Homo sapiens: one gene and its partners. The protein of the gene in region 6 interacts with the protein of the main gene of each other region in a pairwise test. Each region holds a gene or a part of one and is shown on either strand. Other genes may lie near its edges.

Region 1 (2,671 bases), on a different chromosome or scaffold from region 6:
TAGGGCAGTGGTTCCCAAAATGGGGTCCCTGCCCAGCCGCATCACATCACCTGAGAACCTGTTAGAAATGCAAAACTTCCCCGCCATCCTGAATCAGAAACTCTGGGGAGGGAGCCCAGCAATCCGTGTTCCGGCAAAAGCCCTCCAGGTGATTCTCATGCACATTCAAGTGTCAGAACTACGTGCCACGGGGAAAACCAGAATGAGAACAGACAGTGAATGAAATGTGCAAGTGTTTATTTATTTATCTATGTACTTATTTATTTATTTATTTTGAAACGGAGTCTCGCTCTGTCGCCCAGGCTGGAGTGCAGTGGCGCCATCTCGGCTCACTGCAAGCTCCGCCTCCCGGGTTCAAGAGATTTTCCTGCCTCAGCCTCCTGAGTTGCTGGGATTACAGGCGCCCACCACCACGCCCAGCTAATTTTTGTATTTTTGGTAGAGACGGGGTTTCACCATGTTGGCCAGGCTGGTCTCAAACTCCTGACCTCAGGTGATCCGCCCATCTTGGCCTCCCAAAGTGCTGGGATTACAGGCGTGAGCCACCGCGCCTGGCCTATATTTGATTTTTTAACATGTAACTGAGTCAGTGGGCTTCCCAACATGTGGGCTGCAGATATCAGAGCAGGCTGTGGAGTTACCATAAGGCCACAGATTCATGTCTGAGAACGAGTGTGTGTGTGTGTGTGTGTGTGTGTTTGTTACACACACATATACTGAGATCTTTCAAGTTTATACAGTTGCTGCTGTAATTAATAAGGTAGAAATTTATTCTGGGCCTCAGTTTATCTGTAAAATGGAGGGGTTAGATTAGAATCTAGTGATTAGATGATCTCTGGAAAACTTTCCTGTTCTAAGAAAATATTAGTTAAAATAACTAGGAAAATTTCCATCAATGACACATGATTACAGTGTCATAACTCATGTCCATATTGTCCAACACCCTAAGAGAGTAACAGTTTCTCACACTGGTACAGACGTCTGGGTCCTCACACTGGTACAGACGTCTGGGCTTCACTAAGCACTACTCCCTTGACTTGATCAGCTCCCATTTTACAGATGAAAGCCTGAAACTGGAAAGATGAAGCAACTTGCCCAAGAACTTAGCGTTACTGAGGGTCACAGTGAGGACCTGACTTCAGGCCCCAAGACCAAAATTGCCTCTTTACCGCCCTGCCTCTAGAGTAATAGAGGTGGAGACATTCTGGGTGTTAGAAGAGTGGAATCTGGTGCTTACGCTTCGACAGAGCCCACTCTTACTGAAGCAGCCGTATCTCCAGCCCATCAAGGAGATGAGGATAGCTGCAGTGAGTACCTGCAGGAGAGAGAAGAATGTTGAGATGGGGAAATCGACTTTGCCGGCTGTTTCTAGGTGCTGCCCACAGCTGTTAGAGTGGCTGGCAGCTCACATGAACGCAGTCCTGTTGACTCTGACTCTGGGGACCCACATTTGTATGACGAGCCTGATCTAACGCTGTGGATGTTAACTTTCACACCCGACCTGCCTGGTCCCAAGCTAGGCTTCCTGTCTCTTAGAGCTTCTACAGACCCAAGATCAGCTTGTTAGAATAAACTTTTCTGCAAGGAATCAAAACACTCTTCCCATGCCACCTTCCTGCTCCCCGCCGGGGTCTCTTTGAGAGTTCACGTTCAGGGAACCCCGGACACTTACCATGAGGCCTCCTCCCCAGAGCCCAGTTCCCAGCATGGCATGCCTGCCAAGGAGGCCCCTCAACAGGTAGGTGACATCCCAGTTAGGAAGGAGGAGTGCCACGTTGGCCCCAGCAGCAAACAGGGCTGCAGTCCCAAGGCTCAGTCCCAGGATACGGGAGCAAGTCCGTGAGCTTGCCTGCGTGCAGGGAGAGGACACCATCCTGGAACAGATAGAAAGGGAGTCGCAGCAGCTCTGCTGTGGGGGGATGGGGAAGGGAACTCCAGCAGCATATCATGGGTGAGGGAAACAGACTACAGAAACCGCCACCTTCCAGGGTCAGACCAATGAGAGCCAAGCAACCTGCTTAAAAACTCTGCTCCTTAGGAATCTTCCCCAGTGACTAGGATTTAATTGTTTCCTTTTCTGCTAACCCCTGTTCACACATACATAGTTTGCATTCCATCATATTTTGTTTATGCCTCTATTACAGCCAGTGATTATTTCTGACAAAAAGAAATGTTTAAAGGTGTCTTCATGATGTCCATTGTCTCCACTTCTATTCAACGTTGTACTGGTCCTGGCCAGTGCAATACGAAAATAAAAGGAAGCAAAAGCCACACAGATAGGAAAGAAAGAAGTAATATTGTCGGCCAGGCATGGTGGCTCAGGCCTGTAATCCCAGCACTTTGGGAGGCTGAGGCAGGCGGATCACGAGGTCAGGAGTTCAAGACCAGCCTGGCCAACATGGTGAAACCCCGTCTCTACTAAAAATACAAAAATTAGCTGGGCACGGTGGTGGGTGCCTGTAATCCCAGCTACTGGGGAGACTGAGGCAGGAGAATTGCTTGAACCCGGGAGGCAGAGGTTGCAGTGAGCTGAGATCATGCCACTGCACTCCAGCCTGGGTGACACAGCAAGACTCCATCTTAAAAAAAAAAAAAAGTAACATTGTTATTATTCACAGATAATGTGATCACATTATGTAGAAAATCCTAAAGTTTATTAGAATTAACAGGT
Region 2 (4,192 bases), on a different chromosome or scaffold from region 6:
GAATTTCCCTGTCTCTAGGGATGGTTGTTGCTGTCTTTCTATGTGTTTTGAGGGTCTTTGTTTCTATTGTCTCTTTTTTTTTTTGAGACGGAGTCTTGCTCTGTCACCCAGGCTGGAGTGCAGTGGCACGATCTTGGCTCATTGCAAGCTCCGCCTCCTGGGTTCACACCATTCTCCTGCCTCAGCCTCCTGAGTAGCTGGGACTACAGGCACACGCCGCCATGCCTGGCTAATTTTTTGTGTTTTTAGTAGAGATGGGGTTTCACTGTGTTAGCCAGGATGGTCTCGATGTCCTGACCTTGTGATCCGCCCACCTCGGCCTCCCAAAGTGCTGGGATTACAGGCGTGAGCCACCGCGCCCGGCCCTCTATTGTCTTTTCTAACGCTGTGTGTGTATCTCTCACTGGTGGATTTCTCAGTAGCTTGATAGCCCTATTTGTCTTTCTCTTTAGCTGTACTTCTCTATCTTTCTGCATTTTTGTCTCCATCTCTCTTTTTCTCTCCATGTATCTCTGTGTCTCTGTCTCTCTCTGTACCTCTCCCCATCCCTCCTCCTCCACCCCACCTGGTGCTTTTGGATATCTCTATCCAGTTCCCTTGGACTCCCTAGGGTTTTGCACCTGCCTCTCTGCCAGCCCCTCCCCCTGGGGAGCAGGTGTCTGGGTCCTTTGCAGAAATGAGCTCATTAGATTGAGATGGAGGTGGTGAGGGGCGGTGGATGTTATTAAGAGAGTCCTCAAAAGGGGACTGAGGAGCTGTGGCTCAGGCCTGTAATCCCAGCACTTTGAGGCAGGAGGATTGCCTGAGTCCAGGAGTTCAAGACCAGCCTAGGCAACAAAGCAAGGTCCCATCTCTACATAAAATAAAAAGGGTGGAGGGTGACCCTTAGGGTCATGTATTTTAACCCTCACCCCAATTTACAGATGGGGAAACTGAGGTTCAGAGGGTTGTAACAGCTTCCCCAAGGTCCCACTGATAGAGGCAGTGGCCTGGCCATGGTGGAGGGAAGGAAGAAATGAGGGGTGAGAAAGCAGAGGGGTGAAGTGGGGTAGGATGGACCCCGTCTCTTCCCATCTGCCAGGGTCACTGTGTTCCCACCTCGGCTTCTGGGTGCGGTGCTTCGGCGTGGGAGCGGCGGGCAGGCCCCGGCCATGCTTCCTGTTGGCATGGACTTCGGCGGCCCCACCCCCTCAGTGCCCGCCGCCTGCCAGAGGAAGCTGCATGCCTGACCCTCCATGTGGCTCCTGGTCACTTCAGAGCTGCCCACCACCCCCTCCAGATCCAAGTCGGAACATCAGACCCTCAGGAATCTACCCAATCTTCATATCAGTGTCCGCATCTGGCCCTACCAGCCCAGTTCCACAACCCTTCTGCCAGAGAGGTCTCCAGCCCCTCCTTTCCTGTTGAGCAAGTCTGTTCTCCCCTCAAGCCACTTATTCCAACCCTTGTCCTTGATCTGCCCCATCACTGGCCTGACCAGGGCTGGAATGTGACGGGAGCCTGCTGAGACCTGCCCTGACCCCACTTTCCCCTTTCTTCCCTACTCACCACTCATCTTCGGAGTCAGCCCCTCTTCCCCAAAAGCAATCAAAACCCCCTTCTCCTTAAGACTCAGGAATCCAGGACCCAGCCCCCTCCTCTCCTGGTACCTAGGAGTCCAGGCCACTGTAAGCCTACCTCTCCACTATTTCCCTGACTAATCAGCATGCAGATTTGGGGAGAAATTGAGCTTGTTAACAGTGGAGACTGGGTTGGGGTTGGTGGGGGGAGGCAGGTCGGGGGAGAGGTTTGTTTCCCATTTCCCATCCCCACCCCCAAGGCAGTTTTTTCTGTCCTTTGCATCTAAGGCACTGGGTAAACATTAGAGGTTAGACAAGGACCAAAGAGCTGCCGCCTACTGGAAGAACTTTGTCTTTCCTCCACTCTCCCTTCACCAAACCTGGGGCTACCTCTCCCCTTATTGGCTCTTGGGGGGCTTGAGTGTCTGATCAGCCACCCTCTGGCCTCCAGGGGTCCTGGACCTCTGGCCGTCTAATGGCAACATCTTCAAAGACTGAAACACTGAAACAAATATTCCCTTCCTTTTGCAGAGAAGGACCCCAGCAACTGTCTCCTGGGAGCACCCAGGAGTCCCAGCCAAAGCCCCTCCTCCCTCAGACCCAAGAGTCTAGGCCCCCAACCTCTCCTCCCTCAGATCCAGGAGTCCTGACCCCCAGCCCCTCCTCCCTCAGACCCAGGAGTCCAGACCCCAGCCCCTCCTCCCTCAGACCCAGGAGTCCTGACCCCCAGCCCCTCCTCCCTCAGACCCAGGAGTCCAGGCCCTCAGTCCCTCCTCCCTCAGACCCAGGAGTCCAAGTCCCCAGTCCCTCCTCCCTCAGACCCAGGAGTCCTGACCCTCAGCCCCTCCTCCCTCAGACCCAGGAGTCCTGACCCCCAGCCCCCCCTCCCTCAGACCCAAGAGTCCTGACCCCCAGCCCCTCCTCCCTCAGACCTAGGAGTCCCAGCTCCCAGCCACCATGCCCCACTCACCGAGCACCCCCCGAACCACAGCATCTCTGCATGCAGCACCATGAGTCCAATGCCAGTTCCTGCCAGCACCAGTGCCCAGCCGGCCAGAGACTTCTCCTGCTCCAGCAAGCGCTTTCGGCGTCTCAAGGCCCCCAGGCCAAGCACCAGATCCCCGCCCATGGCCCCCGGGGTCTTGGGGCTCAGCCAGCTTCCTGCCCAGGGTCCCCCACCTCGCAGCACGCACAGGGCAGCCACTGTGGCTTGCAGGTCGTCAGCCTGCTCTGCTGGCTCTGGGACTTTTGCTCTGAGGCACAGCAGAGCCCTGTGCCCTCTGGGGAGTGGTGACGGCCAGGCAGGGCGGGGAGGGGCAGGGGAGGCCCCAGGGTAGGGGGAGGCTCCCCAGCTCCCCCTTTTGAGAATAAGGAGGGGCTAGGGTGTGTCTTGGGGCAGAGCAAGAAAGAGACGTCCATCCACGTGGATAAAGACACACACAGACACACGATGGGCTTTGTCACACACAATGGTCTGTACTTTGTGACACACACCTCTACTCACCACACCCAGACACCGAAGGACACTCCACAGCCCAAGACGGAGACTAACACACCAGGGCACACAACACAACCTACACAGAGTGACTCACAACTCCCAGCAAGCTCTGAAACCCACAGCCACACCCAGACACCACACACATGGTGTGACACACACCAGCACTTAGCAAGCAGGCAGTATCCCGTGGCACACACAGCCACCCAAACACCGTCCACACACAGGCACAAATATTACACTCAAAGTTGTCACAACTTTCTCTGACACAAAGAGCCACACCCAAACACCACAAATAGGACGATGCACAACTGTGGCCACACAAACACAACATACACCAGGTGTTACACAAACACACAATATATATTAAAGTAGTGACGCCCTGATGCCACACACCACACACCGACACAAACACTGTGCAGTCCCAGTTTCCTAAACACTACACACCCTTGGAACGAAACCCAATACGTGTAGACACACAACATTTAGGGACATACCTATAGTAGCCCCCAATCACCCAGAGCTAGAGAATTGCACATACATTGTGGCGCCTGTTGACTCGAACACAAGTGCTCGCAGTGATGATTCAAAACACGCACTGATTCAGCATGCTCTGATGTGTGGTGCGATTCAAATGTATGGTCAGAGGACAAGCTGAGTGGATGCATGCAGAGACCTACAAGGTACAGCGACACACGGAGAAACCCAAGAAGCACATGCCTGAAGCAAGATGATTCTGGTATATTCTGGCCACACAGGACAACATCCAGGATGATGCCCTGGGGGAAGGGGATGGGGTTGGACCTTCATAGACCCCAGTGCCCAAATGCAACATACGGCTGGGTGCAGTGGCTCATGCCTGTAATCCCAGCAGTTTGGGAGGTTGAGGTGGGAGGATTGCTGGAGCCCAGGGGTTTGAGACCAGCCTGGGCAACATAGCAAGATCCTATCTCTAAAACAAGCAAAAACAAAAAAACAAACGCAACATACACCATCACCTCTGAGCCATGAGCCACACCCAAACATGACATACAATACCTCCACACAACCCAACACGTTATATTCCAACATGCGTGGCCACACAACAACATACGCGGAGTAATACACCAGCACACAGTAACGCAAAACACATAAACAC
Region 3 (3,500 bases), on a different chromosome or scaffold from region 6:
GGAGGTCGAGACCAGCCTGACCAACATGGTGAAATCCCATCTCTACTAAAAATACAAAAAAATTAGCCAGGCATGGTGGCGTGTACCTGTAATCCCAGCTACTCAGGAGGCTAAGGCAGGAGAATCGCTTGAACCCAGAAGGCGGAGGTTGCATTGAGCCAAGATTGCACCATTGCACTCCAGCCTGGGCGACAGAGCAAGACTGTCTCAAAAAAAATAAAAAATTAAAAATTTTAAAAAATTTAAAAAAAGATTCAGAACTCTTAAACATAATATTAGCAGACAGGCTGGGTGCAGTGGCTCACTCCTACAATCCCAGCGCTTTGGGAGAATGAGGTGGATCACTTGAACCCAGGAGTTGGAGACCAGCCTGGGCAAACAGTAAGACGTAGTCTCCACTACAAATAAAAAAAATTAGCCAGTGTGGTGGATGTGCCTGTGGTCCCACCTACTCTGGAGACTGAGGCAGGAGGAATCCTTGAGCCCAGGAGTTTGAGGCTGGAGTGAGTTATGATCACACCTGGGTATAGCCACTGCACTCCAGCCTGGGCGACAGAGCAAGACTCCGTCTAAAAAAAAAAAAAAAAATTCATAAACTTTATAAAATGTATAAATTGAAGTCGATAAACTGAACTTCACTGAAATTAAGAATTTTTGTTCATCCAAAGGTTTCGTTAAGGGAATGAAAAAAGGTTGGGTGCAGTGGTTCATGCCTGTAATCCCAGCACTTTGGGAAGCTGAGGCAGGAGGATCACTGGAAGCCGGGAGTTCAAGACCAGCCTGGGCAACATGGAGAAACCCCGTCTCTGAAAAAGTTTAAAAATTAACTACGTGTGATGGTACACACCTGTGGCCCCATCCATTCAGGAAGGGTAAGGTGGGAGGATCGCTTGAGCTTGGGAGGTTGAGGCTGCAGTGAACTCTAATCCCGCTACTGCACTCCAGTCTAGGCAACAGTGCAAGTGCCTGTCTCAAAGAAAAAAAAAAAAAAAAGCCGGGTGCAATGGCTCATGCCTGCAATTCCAGCACTTGGGAGGTCAAGGCAGAAGGATCCTTACGCCCAGGCTTTCTTTTCCTTTTTTTTTTTTTTTTTTTGAGACGGAGTCTCTGTCGCCCAGGCTGGAGTACAGTGGCACAATCTTGGGTCACTGCAACCTCCGCCTCCTGGGGTCAAGCGATTCTCCTGCCTCAGCCTCCAGAGTAGCTGGGATTACAGGCGCACACCACCACGCCCAGCTAATTTTTCTATTTTTAGTAGAAACAGGGTTTCACCATATTGGCCAGGCTGGTCTTGAACTCCTGACCTCGTGATCCGCCTGCCTCAGCCTCCCAAAGTGCTGGGATTACAGGCGTGAGTCACTGTGCCCGGCCAAGCCCAGGACTTCTAGACCAGCCTTGGCAACAAATACCCCATCTCTACAAAAAATAGAAAATGTTAGCCAGGCATGGTGACGTGTACCTATAGTCCCAGCTACTTGTAAGGCTGAGGCGGGAGGATCTCTTGAGCTTGGGAGTCCAAGGCTACATGGCGCTATGACTGTGCCACTGCACTCCACTCCAGTCTGGGCGACAGAGCAAGATCCCAGCTCAAAAAAGAAAATAAAAGGCAAAGATTTCAGCAACTGCCTAGGACTGGGCATTACTGCCCAAGTTCCTTTCAGGGAGGGTGGATCTGGGCAATCGTGGGTCTTGGCTGGGATCTTGGTTTTGGTTGCTCAGCAGAAAACACATTTGCTGCTTCAGGAAAGCACAGCAGCTTCTCCCTCCTGGAGCTGCCTCTCTGGCAAGTCGGCAGAATTTGCTGCACCGTCAGGTGGAATGGAGGGACCGGGCTGACGGCCATCAGCAGTTCTGGCTTCTGCTTTATGTTCACTATTCTTTTCAGCAAATCTGTATCTTCCTGTGTCGTGCTCACAGCCACGTGCCTTCAGCCTCAAGGTACTTCCAATATAGACTAAATCCAAGCACAGAAAATCTGTCTGGCCTTTGGTTCTGTTTAACAAAATACCAAACCAGGTCAGGCATGGTGGCTCACGTCTGTAACCCCAGCACTTTGGGAGGCTGAGGCAGGCAGATCACCTGATGTCAGGAGTTCAAGACCAGCTTCGCCAACATGGTGAAACTCCATCTCTACTAAACATATAAAAATTAGCTAGGCATGGCAGCGCATGCCTGTAGTCCCAGCTACCCTGGAGGCTGAGGCAGGAGGATCACTTGAATCCAGGAGGCGGAGGTTGCAGTGAGCTGAGATCATGCCATTGTACTCCAGCCTGCGCAATAAGAGTGAAACTCCATCTCAAAAAAAAAAAAAAAATCCATCCTGGCCAACATGGTGAAACCCTGTCTGTACTAAAAATACAAAAATTAGCTGGGTGTGGTGGTGTGTGCCTGTAATTCCAGCTACTAAGGAGGCTGAGGCAGGAGGATCACTTGAACCTGGGAGGTGGAGGTTGCAGTGAGCCGAGATCGTGCTACTGCACTCCAGCCTGGTGACAGAGGGAGACGCCCTCTCAAAAAAAAAAAAAAAAAAGCCCGGGCGCGGTGGCTCACGCCTGTAATCCCAGCACTTTGGGAGGCCGAGGCAAGTGGATCACAAGGTCAGGAGTTCAAGACCAGCCTGCCCAACATAGTGAAACCCCATCTCTCCAAAAAAAATACAAAAATTAGCCAGGCATGGTGGCACGCACCTGTAATCCCAGCTACTCAGGAGGCTGAGGCAGCAGAATCGCTTGAACCTGGGAGGCGGAGGTTGCAGTGAGCCAAGATCGCAACACTGCACTCCAGCCTGGGCGACAGAGCAAGACTCCATCTCAAAAAAAAAAAAAAAAAAAAAAGATTAAGGCAATGGCCATTGCTATCCGCTAAAACCATCAGGAGAAAACCTGACAAAGAACTTCATAACAACACCCGAATCCAGTGGTCCACAGAACAGCACAGAAGCAAGCAGATGTTTGCAGCCTATGCACACAGACATACGCACCAACTACCCAGAAAGTTTTCTTGCCATAAAAATTGAACCAGAATCTGACCAAGCTTCTAGATGGAGCTGCTCCTTTAAAGAAGAGAAGGAGGACTATTTCCAGCAACATCACAGGATGCAAAGGGCAAAATCCAGTCTAGGAGAAACTCAATAGGACATAAACTGACTTTCTTCAAACCACAATTACAGGGGGAAAAAAAACAAAAAGAAAATGGGAAACCTGTAAATCAAAAGACACTCAAGATCACAAGTAACTCAAATTACCTGAAAATGAATCACAGACCTAACTGTAAAATGCAAAACTTTAAAACTCTTAAAATACACAGGAGAAGATCTAGCTGACTTTGGGTTTGGTGATTACTTCTGAGATTAAACACCAAAAGCATAATCCACGATAGAAAAAAAAAAAAGAATAAACTGGATTTCATCAAAGTTAAAAACTTTTGCTTTGTGAAAGGCACAGTTAAAACAATGAAAAGACAACCTAGAGAGTGGAAGAAATATTTGCAAAACACCTATC
Region 4 (2,819 bases), on a different chromosome or scaffold from region 6:
GGGAAGAAGGGTCATCAATGCCCCAAACCAAGCATAATTGGCATTTTGTTATATTTCCTTTTAGATTTAGTTTTCATCCTAAACTTTGACTATTAGTGTTTCATTTGCTTTAAATAGTTATATAGTAAACATGAATTTGTAACCTGCTTTTTGATGTAGCATTATTCATAATTTTAAAAACATCATTTGTAATGACTGTAATTTTACAACCATGTAGTACTCTTTATTTTTTATTTAATTTTTTTTTTAATATCAGAAAACATTTACAGTATGTACCACTCTTTACTTAATCCTTCCTCTGAGTTTAGAATTTTGGGGTGTTTCCAATTTTCCAGAATATTAAATAATGTTGCAATATACATATTTGCATAAAGGTTTCTCTCATATTCTTATTTACTTCCCTAGTACAGATTCTTGGAAATGGATTTGTTTGATCAAAGGGCAGAAGTATTTCTGAAGTTTCTGATGCATATTACTTAAAAAACATACTAAATGGAAGGGTGGTATACTTGCATGTGCAGTGAGGACTGCAAATTTTTTACAAATAAACACCAAATGCAGAAAGCACCATCATTTCAATATTGCCCTCAAGTCTACACAGTTGATATAATATTTAGATAGATGGCCATGTCTTGATAATGGAAAACATTTTGTCCTTATTCAAATGATTCCAGGCTATAGGAAAAAAGGAAAAACAAAGTGATTAAAGTTATAAACTTGGCTTGATTAGTAATCCGTAATCCAGATAGCAACTTAAACTTATATTTCATATTCAAAATATGATAGAACAGAAAAAACATCTCTTAGAAATTGCTAGGAAAGGTATTACACATTCTGTTGTTAAACAAAATACAAGCCATCTAAATTCATAATTTTTCTTCACTCTGGACTTCTTGATAGCAGTTTCAACCATAACTAAATTAACATTAGTATTTTAGCAGACGAAGTAGAAGTAGTTTCAATGGGATAAATACATATTTCCCTTCTTCTTCAAAAGCACTCCTATGCACTCGAGATAAAGGTTCATTAGTTGAATGTAGCAGCATTCAGAAGAGAAGTTATTTCAATGAGATAAGGTTCTGAGCCTTTGCTTAACTTATGAACAGGGAAATTCTTGATAAATGGTAAAATTTCATCATGCTTTGAGTTATCTCTATGTAGAACACTAAAACTTTGCTCATTCAAAACACTTATGAAGCCTTACCATACAACAAGAAATGCAGATTTTACAATTACTGAGTTGATTCAACCCTTATAGATAAGCCAAGACACATTGGGATATCAGAAAAAATTGAGATATTAGAGCTTGAATAAAGATGAGGGCAATAGAAATGGGGGGAAAGTGATGGAATTCTAGAGTCTTTTCAAAAAGCCTCATTGAATCCTGGGAAGTGGGGGAAATATGGATGAGCTACAGGTGCCCATGAGAATCTGTTACCTGGAAGATCACTGAATAGCTTCCACACAGTATCTTGGATAGTTGCATGACTACTCTGATGAGGCAGATGATCACTTGAAGCCCACTGAGGGTTATGAGAATGGAAAATAAAATGATGTTCCACTCCACAACATGTGCAGGTTCCAGGCACTGAATCCATATGCTAGAATCTGTAAGGAAACTGAGAGAGACCCATGGCCAAATCTACATACTGGGTCCAAGGAAGAAAGCTACAAGCATTTGTATGTTTGAGAAATTACTGTATAACTAAAATATATAGTTATTAGATATGAATTAATACATTTTAAAAACCATTCAGATACACATATTGGACATATCTTATGCATAGCACTGAGCTAGATACTTAGTGTGTTATAAATGTTGTGCTTGCCTTATCACCCCCATGGCCTCTTTGTTTTTCTTTCTCCCTCTTCCATTTCTTTCCTACTTCCTTCTTTTTTACTCTTTCCCCACCTTTATTTATTTTCTACTTTCTAATGCTCCAGGAAATAGAGGCACTCTGAGAATTTCTTTATATTGTTAATGGCTCTTGTCTCCAATGGGAAAGAGCACAGAATATGAAATCAGAATTCCTGGATTTGGGTCTGCAGGATGTTGAGCAAAGAACTTTACCCCTCTGGCCTCCAGACTTTTTTTTTTTTTTTTGAGACGGAGTCTTGCTCTGTCGCCCAGGCTGGAGTGCAGTGGCGCATCTTCGCTCACTGCAAGCTCCGCCTCCCTGGTTCACGCCATTCTCCTGCCTCAGCCTCCCAAGTAGCTACAGGCACCCGCCACCACGCCCGGCTAATTTTTTGTATTTTTTTAGTAGAGACGGGGTTTCACCGTGTGAGCCAGGATGGTCTCGATCTCCTGACCTCATGATCTGCCTGCCTCACCCTCCCAAAGTGCTGGGATTACAGGCATGAGCCACCGCGCCTGGCCCTCCAGACTCTTATCTTGATAATGGGGTTAAAATATCTAACCCCAGAGTTATTGTGAATATTTGGTAAGAATGTGTATACAAACAGTTTGGAACCTGTAAAGTACAATACAGATGTGGCTTTCTGTTAAATTTCCCTAAACCTATCTCATACCCCCATTTACCCCTATCTCCATCTCAGCTGCCAGGGAAATGAGTCCCTCCAGATCCCTCCTCTAGACTGTTCCTAGTACATGCTCTGCACAGATCATCTAGCAATTTAAAACAAGATGACTTGCAATGTTGCAGGAAGTCGGGGACCCCAAATGGTGGGACTGGCTGGAGCCGCGGCAGAGAAACATGAATTGTGAAGATTTCATGGACATTTATCAGTTCCCAAATAATACTTTTATAATTTCTTATGCCTGTTTTTACTCTAATCTCTTAATCCTGTTATCTTCA
Region 5 (3,500 bases), on a different chromosome or scaffold from region 6:
ACCCTCCAAGAGCGTTTTCTTATGTAAGTTAGATCCATCCATAGTTACCATATTCAAAATTAAAACTGAGAAATTTCTAAATTAGCTCAAAATACAATAGTAACTCATTACCTGTTAATACAACATATTTAATAAGTAACTATATTTTCCAAGACCAAAAAAATATATAGTAGACGTTTTCTCTAGTAAAATATCTAGTAAGAAGGAGGCCTTGTTTCACATCATTGCAAATCTCTTTAATGTGTGGTTTACTAGAAGGTAGCTAGAGTTTTATATCAACTTCGGTGTTCGGTCTGTCTGCAATACATTACTTTGATTGAAAGATGAAAGAAAATCCAACCTCACTCAGATATGTAACTGGAAAGGGGAGGGGTATTTAATAAAGCCTTTTCAGATCATTGTGGATATTTTTCTTTGATATGACATCACTGCTCCCCAAGTGGTAGCTTCTTAAAGACTGGCTGCAGTGGGGAATCTGAAACCTTGCACTTGGAATGCTTGTTTGCCTCTGTGCATGATTTTGTGACATCATTCATTTATCATTTCGAAGATATTGGCTTGCCGAATTGTGAAGATCTTTCAAATATTGATGAATTTCATTAAACAATATTAACAAATCACATCTATTACTATTCCCACTGATCTTATCACAAAAGTCCTTTTCATAGTAATATGTGTGAGTTTTCCAAAATTCTAATTTTTGCTTGAAAGCTTAAATTTTATCATTGGCCACAAATACTGCCAGTTGTTTTTCTGGAAGTGACGAGCTCACTTCGTTCATTTTTGCAAAAATGCCTGCTCAACACCCAAGTCTGAATAACTGGAGTTTGTTGGTTGTTCTTTCAGATAAAATGGTATCCCATGGAAAAATGGCTAGTTCAGCCTGCAACTCAAACAGATGCACAGGTGATGGGCACTGTTCAGTTGCTTGAGAAATTATTGTGTAATATTTCTGTAAGAAGCAGAAGTGCTTTATGTGTACTTCTCATTCCATCACAGAGAATATTAAAAAGATGTGCACTCCAGAATCAAGCTTCAATATAATTATAATCTTTGCTGCTTCATGAAAAGAAGACATTCTTAACTGAAAATGGCATTTCATTATTTACCAATTACTTTGCTTAGCGGGTGTGTAGTGTGGAAGAACACAAAGACGGGTGCAGTGTGATACTATTACCTTGATTCATGGTAAGGTGCCAGCAGCTTCACCCACCACTGCTTTAGCACCATCAATGTCAAGCATGGGAATGGCAAATAACTTTATTGCCATCATGGAAACTGCTTTGACCTTATGGACCCCCCTGAAAATTCTTAGGGACTCCCAGGGACCCGTGGCCCCCATCTTGATTACTGCTATAAGGTAAACTTCACAAGGGCCTGTTCCCTGTGTGTTACTGTCTCCATTTTCAGATGAGGACCCCGAAGTTCAGAAAGTTTAAGTAACTTGCCCAGGGTCACACAGGCAGGAAGTGGCAGTCTTGGTTTGACCTAGGCCATCTGACTCCCAGCCACACACACGCTGCTTCAGTTATGCCCTACAGAACATGCTGTGGGGGCCTCTCCTCTGCCCCTTCCCCATTGCCTCACCTCCTGAGGTCTTTGGGGCTCACGATCTACTCCAGGGGAGGCACGAAGACACCTCCAGGTTTGCAGTGGTGAGGACCTGGGCTTCTATTACTGTCTGCCCCAGGGCACCCCTGCCACCCTCTACCAGTAGGAGACCTAATGGGGGTGGAGCACGCCTCCCTGGGAAGCCTCAGACGTCTGGGGCTGGCTTGCCAATGGCAGGCTCAGTTCTTGATGCTTCCCTGCCTCCTGCAGCTGCAGCAGCAGCAACCAGCACAGTTCCCAGCATCAAAGAGCTAATCCAATTTCTCAGCTGTGCTTCCCCCTTCGCCTCCTGCAATGCCAGGATTGATTTGGAAACAGGGCAGCCTTATTAAAGTGATGCCTTTTCCTACTCGTGGGAGAGTCAAACTGGGAGAGGGAGCCCTCCCACAGCCAATTAACTCCATGCTTCCCGCTAACACTGATCCTAGCCACAGCCACCCTTGAGTTTCCTGGGGTTTACCTGTAACTCTTCTTAGCTCCTAGTGGTGAGGATGGATTTCAGTCCTAGGTCTGCTTCCCTCCAAGACCCAAGAGCACTTAACCAATAGGTTCTTGTTCATCCTTCCTGCACTTCTAGAGGGTTGCCTGGGTGGTCCCCTCTCCTCCTGCTTGCAGGCCTCCACCCCGTCTCCTAACATCCCATCTTAGGCCCTATGACCGGGCCGTCACTTGGTCCATCTGAGTTGGTACAATGAAAGATACATGGCAGACAGCCCCAAGAGGGATAGAGGTAAAGACCTGTACATTTGTTAAATGGGCTTTTCTCCAAATAAACACAGGAGGCAGAAGACAAGGACAGTCCTCAGAGACCTCTACCACCCTCAGCCCAAGCCCCTCTCCAGGCCCCCCTCCTTGCGGCCTCACAGCTCTCCTCTAATCTAGGGAGTTAAGGTGTAGCAGAAGCAGAGAAGGCCCCGCTCCAGAAAATGCTTCCTTTCTACAAATAGCATAAAAACTGCTTCCCGAGTCACTTTGTAGAAGAGGAAGGACATGCACAACACATCTGGATCATTAGTTCAGACTGGAATCAATGGTGAGGAAAAGAGATTTCTCTCAAACCACCCAGCCCTTAGGGAGCAGAGGTTCTCTGGGAAGGTCTTTGGAGCTCAGAGCACTGGCTGACCTTGGGGAAGGCATTTCTGGTCTGGAAAGGAAAAAATGAGCACCACCTCTTTGACGCTACCACCCTCCCACCCCCGGCCACCGCTCCCCTCCCTCCGCCGCCCATACACATGGCCCTACCCAGCTCAGCCCTGCAATACCACAAATGCCTCATTTGACTTCAGAGGAAAATGGAGCTAAGAGTAGGAGTGAGGAAGGGAGTAAAAAGAAGGGCGGGGGAAGGAACAAGTGGGGAGGGAGAGATGAAGGTACAAGGTACCCTCTCCTGTCTCTCACATGCACACTACTGCAGGTGGTTACAACTCTTTTCTGTTTCTCCACAGCTGAGCAGGAAACTGGGAGAAGAGCCCTTCTCCCCTGCAGCCTCTCCCTCTTGGCCTCCATCACCACTCTCCTAACCCCTGCCAAGCCCTGCATCTGATCCTACCTGAGCTAAAGAAGCAGAAGGTCCGGAGGGAGCCTGTGATTTTTGCCTCGGTCACCTCTTACAAATGCGGTGGGCTGCTGGGCTCGCCCTAACCCTGCATCACCCCCAGGCTGCTCCTTCAGTCTACTCGGGTATGGAAAGGGTTAAGCTCCTCCCATCCCCTCCTTCCTTCATCCCATTTCTCCATTCACTTCTATTTTCCCATATGCCTAGTGCCAAGCTCACAGTTACAACCACTTACACCCTGTATTAAGATGCATGGAATAGTAATGGGTAAATTCCGTCTCTAATTGCAATATTTCCTAATTACTAAATTCCAGAGCCACTGTATCAACCCAAT
Region 6 (3,500 bases):
AGGCACATCTCACACATGGGCATGAAAACCCAATCATCGCTTATGAAACTAACATTTCAATAGAAATACATTATGAAAGTTCTGGTTCTAAATCCATATTATCTTGAGGGCATATCCACTGATGCAATGGATATGATCATTATTTGATTTGATATCAAACTAAAACGAGTGAGAAAAAAAAAAAGAAACCCCAGAATATGTTACAGTTGTTTTTATTCCAACTGAAAATTGAGTAAGGGTAACTCTTCACTTTAACGTACCTAGAAATGATATCTCCTTGCATAATTAGTCATTTAACAGAGCCAGCAACCATCCAGGAGCTTGGCTTGGTGTCATAAGACATGTGTAAGTAGCAAAGCACTGTCTGGTTTTGAAATCTCAAAACCATGAGTATTGAAATGTTGTATTTGAGTGTTTAATGAGAAGTGGTTAATCATTTACTTCCTTTTTTCAGGAAAGGGGAACTCTCTGTCTTCTAGACAAGGTCACCAACATCTAACCTTGGGCTGTGTCTTCCCATACAACCCTATTTACGTCAACCTTCCAATGACTGCTCCTGGGGACAGAGTGGTGAAATGGTACCATGGGCATTCTGACAACCAACTCAGAGAAGAGATGCTACATCCTTTGCCCTCTCAGAGGGTCAGAATTGAGAACATCTCCCAGTACCTAGACATACTCTGGTACATATGAAGTTTGTGATCTATGAATTTGGACCACAGAATCCACCACTACATCTAGCTCTTACTTCTCTCCAATGCCCTGCTGGTTCAGTCAACAGTAAGTCAACAGACAGACATGTAAGAGCTAATGTAAGATGCTAGGCAGAATGCAAGATGTAAGATGTAAGATGTAAGATGTAAGCATGTAAGATGCTAGGCAGAATCCAGAGACAAAGTTGGAAGATGTCACCCTGTGTAACAGAAGTTTCTAGGACTCTGCACACTATGCATATTAATAACGTATTTAAAGAGGGAACTTGAAGACAGTTTAGGCAGGAGATTAAGGAGACCTCTCATGTGTTTTCATGTGTTGTCATAGCCCCATGTTTGGAAATGACAATATGTGACACAAGAGTGTCAAAATGAAGACACCAGAGGATGACAACAGTCAATCAAAGCCCAGTAGAATCTAGGAACTGGAAGCAAGGAAGGTGAGAATTTGTCAGTGTGGCTTCATCACTACCTATTGGTGGAAGACACATACCTGATAACTACTTTGCTAGTTCTTAGCACATCAGGGCCATTTTCTGGAGGCATAATGTAATCTACAGAAACAGCTCTCAAGCCTGACCTTTGCTCTACAGATAGCCTCAGTATTCACCTCTGATTATGTGTCCAGATTGCAGTTTCATTCCTGTTGATACGCCTGGCTTGGGTGGGGACCTTCCTTCCAGATCCTCTAAGTTCTCTTTCATATGCATCTCATTCCAGGGAGAAGGGGAGAGTTCTAAGTCCCAAGTTCTAAGACACATACAGGTACACACCCACACATACAAGCACCCACCCTCACTTTATGGAAAGCATCCAGTGGGGAGACTCATGAACATCAGTCATTCTGAGGCCACATCCTTCTACTAAACTAATCATTCCGCAGACTTGGATGCACCCCGCTTCCACATGGACTTTACCATCCACAACTTACCAGCAAGAATTTGGAAGATTCCAGTGATGTAAAACCTGCCCCCCTTGGTGAGGGTGAAGAGTTGGCAGAAGAACAGGAACAGAGACAGAATGCTGAAGATGATCGACAGGATCATGGTGGCCTGGACAGACTGCAGCCATTCTGGGGGAAAGAGACACTTGGTTAGGAGAGCTGGCCATGGCCGGGGGAGGGCTCTGCCTCGAGGTGCAGGGCCTGAAGGGCCATGACTGCTGACAGCACAGTCCTCACAGGCAGCAGAAGCAGAAGTCCTTTTTCCTTAGCAGAACTCAGACAATTCACTTTTGCAATCTAAGAAGACATTCTTTATTGTTTATTTTGGAGGAAAAAATATATACATATATACATACATCTATATGTACTGATATATACATATACAAACACACACATGTGCCAATATGTACACATTACATACATATATACCTATATGTACAAATATGCATACAAATATGTACGTGTTTCTATATATATGTGTATATACACATATACAAATACGTGACACACACATATATATAAAAAACACATGTGAACATTCAGGGAAGGGCTGTAAAAAAATATCTATAGTTCCATCACTAGGAGTTAAAGTCATTTTAAAATATATTGAATTTCCTTCCAGTGTTGGTGCAAATGTGTTACTTATGTACATGTGTCTGTGTTAAAGAGGGCCTGAGCCCTGCCTACTACCTTCCCTCTTCTTGCCCTCAGGGGTCTTTGAAGGGCTTATCAGAACTTCTGTATTCCAAGAAAAATAGCTTAAAACCACTATTCAAATTATCTGCATTCCCCAAGGAGAGGTAAAGATCACGGGAATGGCTGTTAGAGCCCAAAGTAATTTTTTGGAAGAATGGAAGAAAATACTGATGAAGAAAGGTATGCTCTCTATAGGTATGGAAATCAATTTGCTTGGACAACCCGTATTTTTTTTTTTTTTTTTTTTTGGTCAACTCTGATCATGGCCATTAGCCTCAGCACAGAGCGGTGTGTGATCGCCAACCACCAGACGGGATGAAGGCTTACACTTCCTTATCTCTGTTGAACCCCAAATCTCCAAGCTTCCAACTGAAATTCAGGCAAGAAGACAGAGCCTCCTATGGTTTCTTCAGTTCACCATCCGCTGCAAACTCATGTCATTTCAGGGAGGAAAGAAGAAACAACCTGAGTTCCACACTGTAGAGGGAAGCCCAGGGTAAAAATCTGCATTTGGCCTCTGTCTTGTCTTCCAAGTGCCACAGAATGCTGGGGGCAGGCACTGCTCTCATGGAGGAAGGGCAACTGGGGAAGCTGCAGCATTTAATCCTTTCAGCTCAGTAACTGCCATATGTAATGGCTTCAAAAGCATACCTTCAATGCTTCACCCAGTACTCACAGCTCTGAAATCTGGATGGTTTATAATTAGTAACTGAGTAAGATAAACTTGTTTTGAGTTGTAAGCAGCTCATGGCAGAATTTTAAGGGTGCAAATTAGGTTAACTGTTCCTAGATTTTCACCTAAGATGTTTCCAAGGCACAGACTGGAGATATTTTAGAGTTGGAAGAAACCTGAGAGATCAACTAGTCCAGCTCCTTTGCACTGAAAGAGATTTCCAGAGGTGTTTTCATGAGCCCAAATGACACAGCCAAATCTAAGAGGCCTTTGATTCTAGTCTAGCACTCTTCACATTCAAGCACAACATATGCTTCTTTCATTTTTTCAATTTCTTTGTCAATTAAAGTAAGAAAATGACGGCTAATGGGTTGTGAGCCATCCTGATTTCACTCTTACATAACCTTAATCAAATGTTTGTCTTTATCCAGCATAGAGGTTCTTCTGGAGGAGCACTTTGCAATAAAGATAATGT
Region 7 (2,734 bases), on a different chromosome or scaffold from region 6:
GGAGCCTGCAAATCCCCCTCACTGTGTGGATGGATTCAATGAACAATGGGAGGTACCAAGTACAGAGCACGCCCTCCCTCCCTCCCTCCCTACTTCCCTCCCTCCTTCTCTCCCTCCCTCCAGGCAGCTGTGGCTTTGCTGTGTGAGGGAACTAGGGCCACACTCAGGGGTGGGGCCTTAATTGGGCCAAATTCACAGAGGAGGAAGCTGTTGAGGCAGCAACCCAGGGTCAGGAGCTGACGAGGGAGGAGCCGTGGAATAAGAGGGAAGGATCCCTGGGGACTTGGGAGGCCGTGGAGAGCCTGGCCCTGAATACAGGACAAGGTCTCCTTTCTTTTGGCCTGGAGTCAGCCTAGGGGGTGGGAGAAGGATGGGAAAAAGCTGTGGTACCTTCCAGTTTTGGCAAGGAGCAGGAAACACACCAGCGCGGCCACCAGCGCCACTCCGACCAGGACCCCGGTCACGATGCCGGCGACGGCCCCCACAGGAAGGCCTGGGGCATTTTCTTCTGCAGAAAGAAGAAGGCAAAGGGGATAGAGGCCCAAGTCTATCCCAGAGGAAACCACAGGGGCCTTGCAGGGAAGGTGTGCAGTCAGGGAAGAAGGAGATGCCATGGGGCCTGAGTGTAGTCTCTTGTGTTGTCCTCATCACAGATTCCCTTGCTTTCCATGGTGGCACCATTTTCTGCAGGCTTGACACACTGGGCGGCACCAACTCATACATTGTCCCAGAGGTGCCTGCACCTCACCCTGCTCCTGTGCCTTTTAGTCCCTCCTTCCTCTCGCATCATGCCTCTTCCCTCTGTTTCTCCTTTTCCATCCCATGACACTCACAAAGGGCAGGCCCTTGGCATCAACTCAATGCTGATAAGCAGGGATGATGTTCATTGACTGTTTTCAGGGGCCTTCCATGTGCCAGTTCCAGTGGGCACCAACCTACCTACAACTCATCTCATCCTTACATCACCTTGAGGGAGAGGGGGCATCACCCCCAGCTGCAGAGTTAGAATCTGAGACTTAAAGCACCTCAGTAAGTCAAGGAAGGTCACAGAACTCGTAAGTGATAAAACAAAATTTGTACAACATTCCAGGCTGGCCCCAAGGTCAGCTGTGAGAAATCAGAACAACAAGGGGAGGAGGGGTCCTGCAGAGGTGGAGTGAGAGGGCTCAGGGTAGAGTTTGGGATTTGCTTGTGTCCAAGACATGGGCTGGGAAATAAACTTCTAGGCTCTTTCAGAAAACTGAGTGGCTTTACCCAGGGCTCAGGGCCTATGCTCCAGGGATCCACTTAGCAGAGACTGTGATTGTCTTGACTGTGATTGTACTGAGGCCAGTGGCTGAGTTATGGGCGAGGCAAGCATAGGATCCACTCTTATCCACTGCGATGTTGGGGATAAAGAGCTTTTGTGTGTGTTGCTGGAGCATTCCACTGACAAACCAGGAGTACTGTGCAGGTGGGTTAGAGGCCATGTGGCAGGAGAGGTTGAGATTTGCCCCTGGATGGTAATAGGAGTCTGGGGGGGAAATGGTGGGAATGCCCGGTCCATCTGGAGTAGCGAGAATAAAGTCATAGATGATATCATCAAAGGGAAGGGGAAGCTCCTGGTCTGTGGAAGAGCCACAGTGTCCCTGTGAGCCAAGTCACAACCTTGAAGTCCTAACGAAACCCAATCTGTCCACTGAGTCTGGGTCTGAGATATTCACCTGTTTCTCCCATCACAGGCTGTGGACCCTGAGCCTCCCAGGACAGGAGCAGCCTCTCCCCTCCTATTCTTGGTCAAGGCTGGGTCTGCCCAGGTTTGCTTGGGACAGGAAGTGATGGCCAGCCTGGGTGAGAGTCTGAGTCCCTGGACTTGAGAGGGACTGAGAGGCCTGGCCTCTGGCTGTGTGGATTTGGGCTGGAAGCCTGGGCCACAGAGGAACAGAAGATACAGAGGACATTCAGCGTGACTGGGTCACTGTAGCTGGCACCCACTGGGTTCGGTATTTCACACTCATAGGGTCCTGTGTCATTCCTTGTGACACTGAGTAGAGTGAGGGTCCTCTTGTCATTGGACAGCTGCAGCCTGGAACTGACCGGGAGGCTCTGACCATTTACCCACTACAGGCAGGTTGTGCTGTGAATCTCAGGTTCACAGGTGAAGGCCACAGCATCCTTGTCCTCCTTGGGGTTGGAGTTGTTGCTGGAGATGGAGGGCTTGGGCAGCTCCGCTGTGCAGAAAACAGAGAGAAGATTGCCCTGTGTGGCACCTGTGATTCCTCCACAGGCATATTTTAATCAGAATCAACATCTCCTATTCTTTGGCCAACTCCACTCCTTAAAAGACCAAGACAAGGCCGGGTGCGGTGGCTCACGCCTGTAATCCCAGCACTTTGGGAGGCCGAGGCGGGCGTATCACGAGGTCACGAGATCGAGACCATCCTGGCTAACACGGTGAAACCCCGTCTCTACTAAAAAATACAAAAAATTAGCCAGGCATGGTGGCAGGCGCCTGTAGTCCCAGCTACTTGGGAGGCTGAGGCAGGAGAATGGTGTGAACCCGGGAGGCAGAGCTTGCAGTGAGCCGAGATCGCACCACTGCACTCCAGCCTGGGCGACAGAGTGAGACTCTGTCTCTCAAAACAAACAAGCAAACAAACAAACAAACACACAAACAAAAAAAGACGAAGACAGATGTGTGTGTCACAGACAGATGCATGACCGTCTGAGGGCTCAGAGACTGTGAGGCTGCCTG

What was found.
Region 1: the proteins of PMP22 (region 6) and TM4SF19 interact in binary tests that used the Homo sapiens proteins (3 or more experiments, as listed by UniProt).
Region 2: the proteins of PMP22 (region 6) and KCNN4 interact in binary tests that used the Homo sapiens proteins (3 or more experiments, as listed by UniProt).
Region 3: the proteins of PMP22 (region 6) and FCGRT interact in binary tests that used the Homo sapiens proteins (3 or more experiments, as listed by UniProt).
Region 4: the proteins of PMP22 (region 6) and TM4SF18 interact in binary tests that used the Homo sapiens proteins (3 or more experiments, as listed by UniProt).
Region 5: the proteins of PMP22 (region 6) and SYT2 interact in binary tests that used the Homo sapiens proteins (3 or more experiments, as listed by UniProt).
Region 7: the proteins of PMP22 (region 6) and CEACAM3 interact in binary tests that used the Homo sapiens proteins (3 or more experiments, as listed by UniProt).

What each region holds. Positions count from the first base shown.
Region 1 is NC_000003.12:196,325,718-196,328,388, forward strand, and holds part of TM4SF19 (transmembrane 4 L6 family member 19), read right to left. Parts: intron 1,875-2,671; 5' UTR 1,874-1,874; coding exon 1,673-1,873; intron 1,316-1,672; coding exon 1,238-1,315; intron 1-1,237. UniProt on the Homo sapiens protein: Negatively regulates vacuolar (H+)-ATPase (V-ATPase) activity by interacting with members of V-ATPase V0 complex and hence inhibiting V1-V0 complex assembly. Required for multinucleation during osteoclast differentiation.
Region 2 is NC_000019.10:43,778,174-43,782,365, forward strand, and holds the start of KCNN4 (intermediate conductance calcium-activated potassium channel protein 4), read right to left. Parts: upstream 2,801-4,192; 5' UTR 2,689-2,800; coding exon 2,530-2,688; intron 1-2,529. UniProt on the Homo sapiens protein: Intermediate conductance calcium-activated potassium channel that mediates the voltage-independent transmembrane transfer of potassium across the cell membrane through a constitutive interaction with calmodulin which binds the intracellular calcium allowing its opening.
Region 3 is NC_000019.10:49,519,161-49,522,660, reverse strand, and holds part of FCGRT (IgG receptor FcRn large subunit p51 isoform 1 precursor), read right to left. Parts: intron 967-3,500; coding exon of another isoform or gene 848-966; intron 1-847. UniProt on the Homo sapiens protein: Cell surface receptor that transfers passive humoral immunity from the mother to the newborn. Binds to the Fc region of monomeric immunoglobulin gamma and mediates its selective uptake from milk.
Region 4 is NC_000003.12:149,320,818-149,323,636, forward strand, and holds part of TM4SF18 (transmembrane 4 L6 family member 18), read right to left. Parts: intron 1,620-2,819; coding exon 1,439-1,619; intron 676-1,438; coding exon 661-675; 3' UTR 1-660.
Region 5 is NC_000001.11:202,700,455-202,703,954, forward strand, and holds part of SYT2 (synaptotagmin-2), read right to left. Parts: intron 1-3,500. UniProt on the Homo sapiens protein: Exhibits calcium-dependent phospholipid and inositol polyphosphate binding properties. May have a regulatory role in the membrane interactions during trafficking of synaptic vesicles at the active zone of the synapse.
Region 6 is NC_000017.11:15,237,827-15,241,326, forward strand, and holds part of PMP22 (peripheral myelin protein 22), read right to left. Parts: intron 1,786-3,500; coding exon 1,645-1,785; intron 56-1,644; exon of another isoform or gene 1-55. UniProt on the Homo sapiens protein: Might be involved in growth regulation, and in myelinization in the peripheral nervous system.
Region 7 is NC_000019.10:41,806,587-41,809,320, reverse strand, and holds part of CEACAM3 (cell adhesion molecule CEACAM3 isoform 1 precursor), read right to left. Parts: intron 2,211-2,734; exon of another isoform or gene 1,704-2,210; intron 1,547-1,703; exon of another isoform or gene 1,288-1,546; intron 509-1,287; coding exon 391-508; intron 1-390.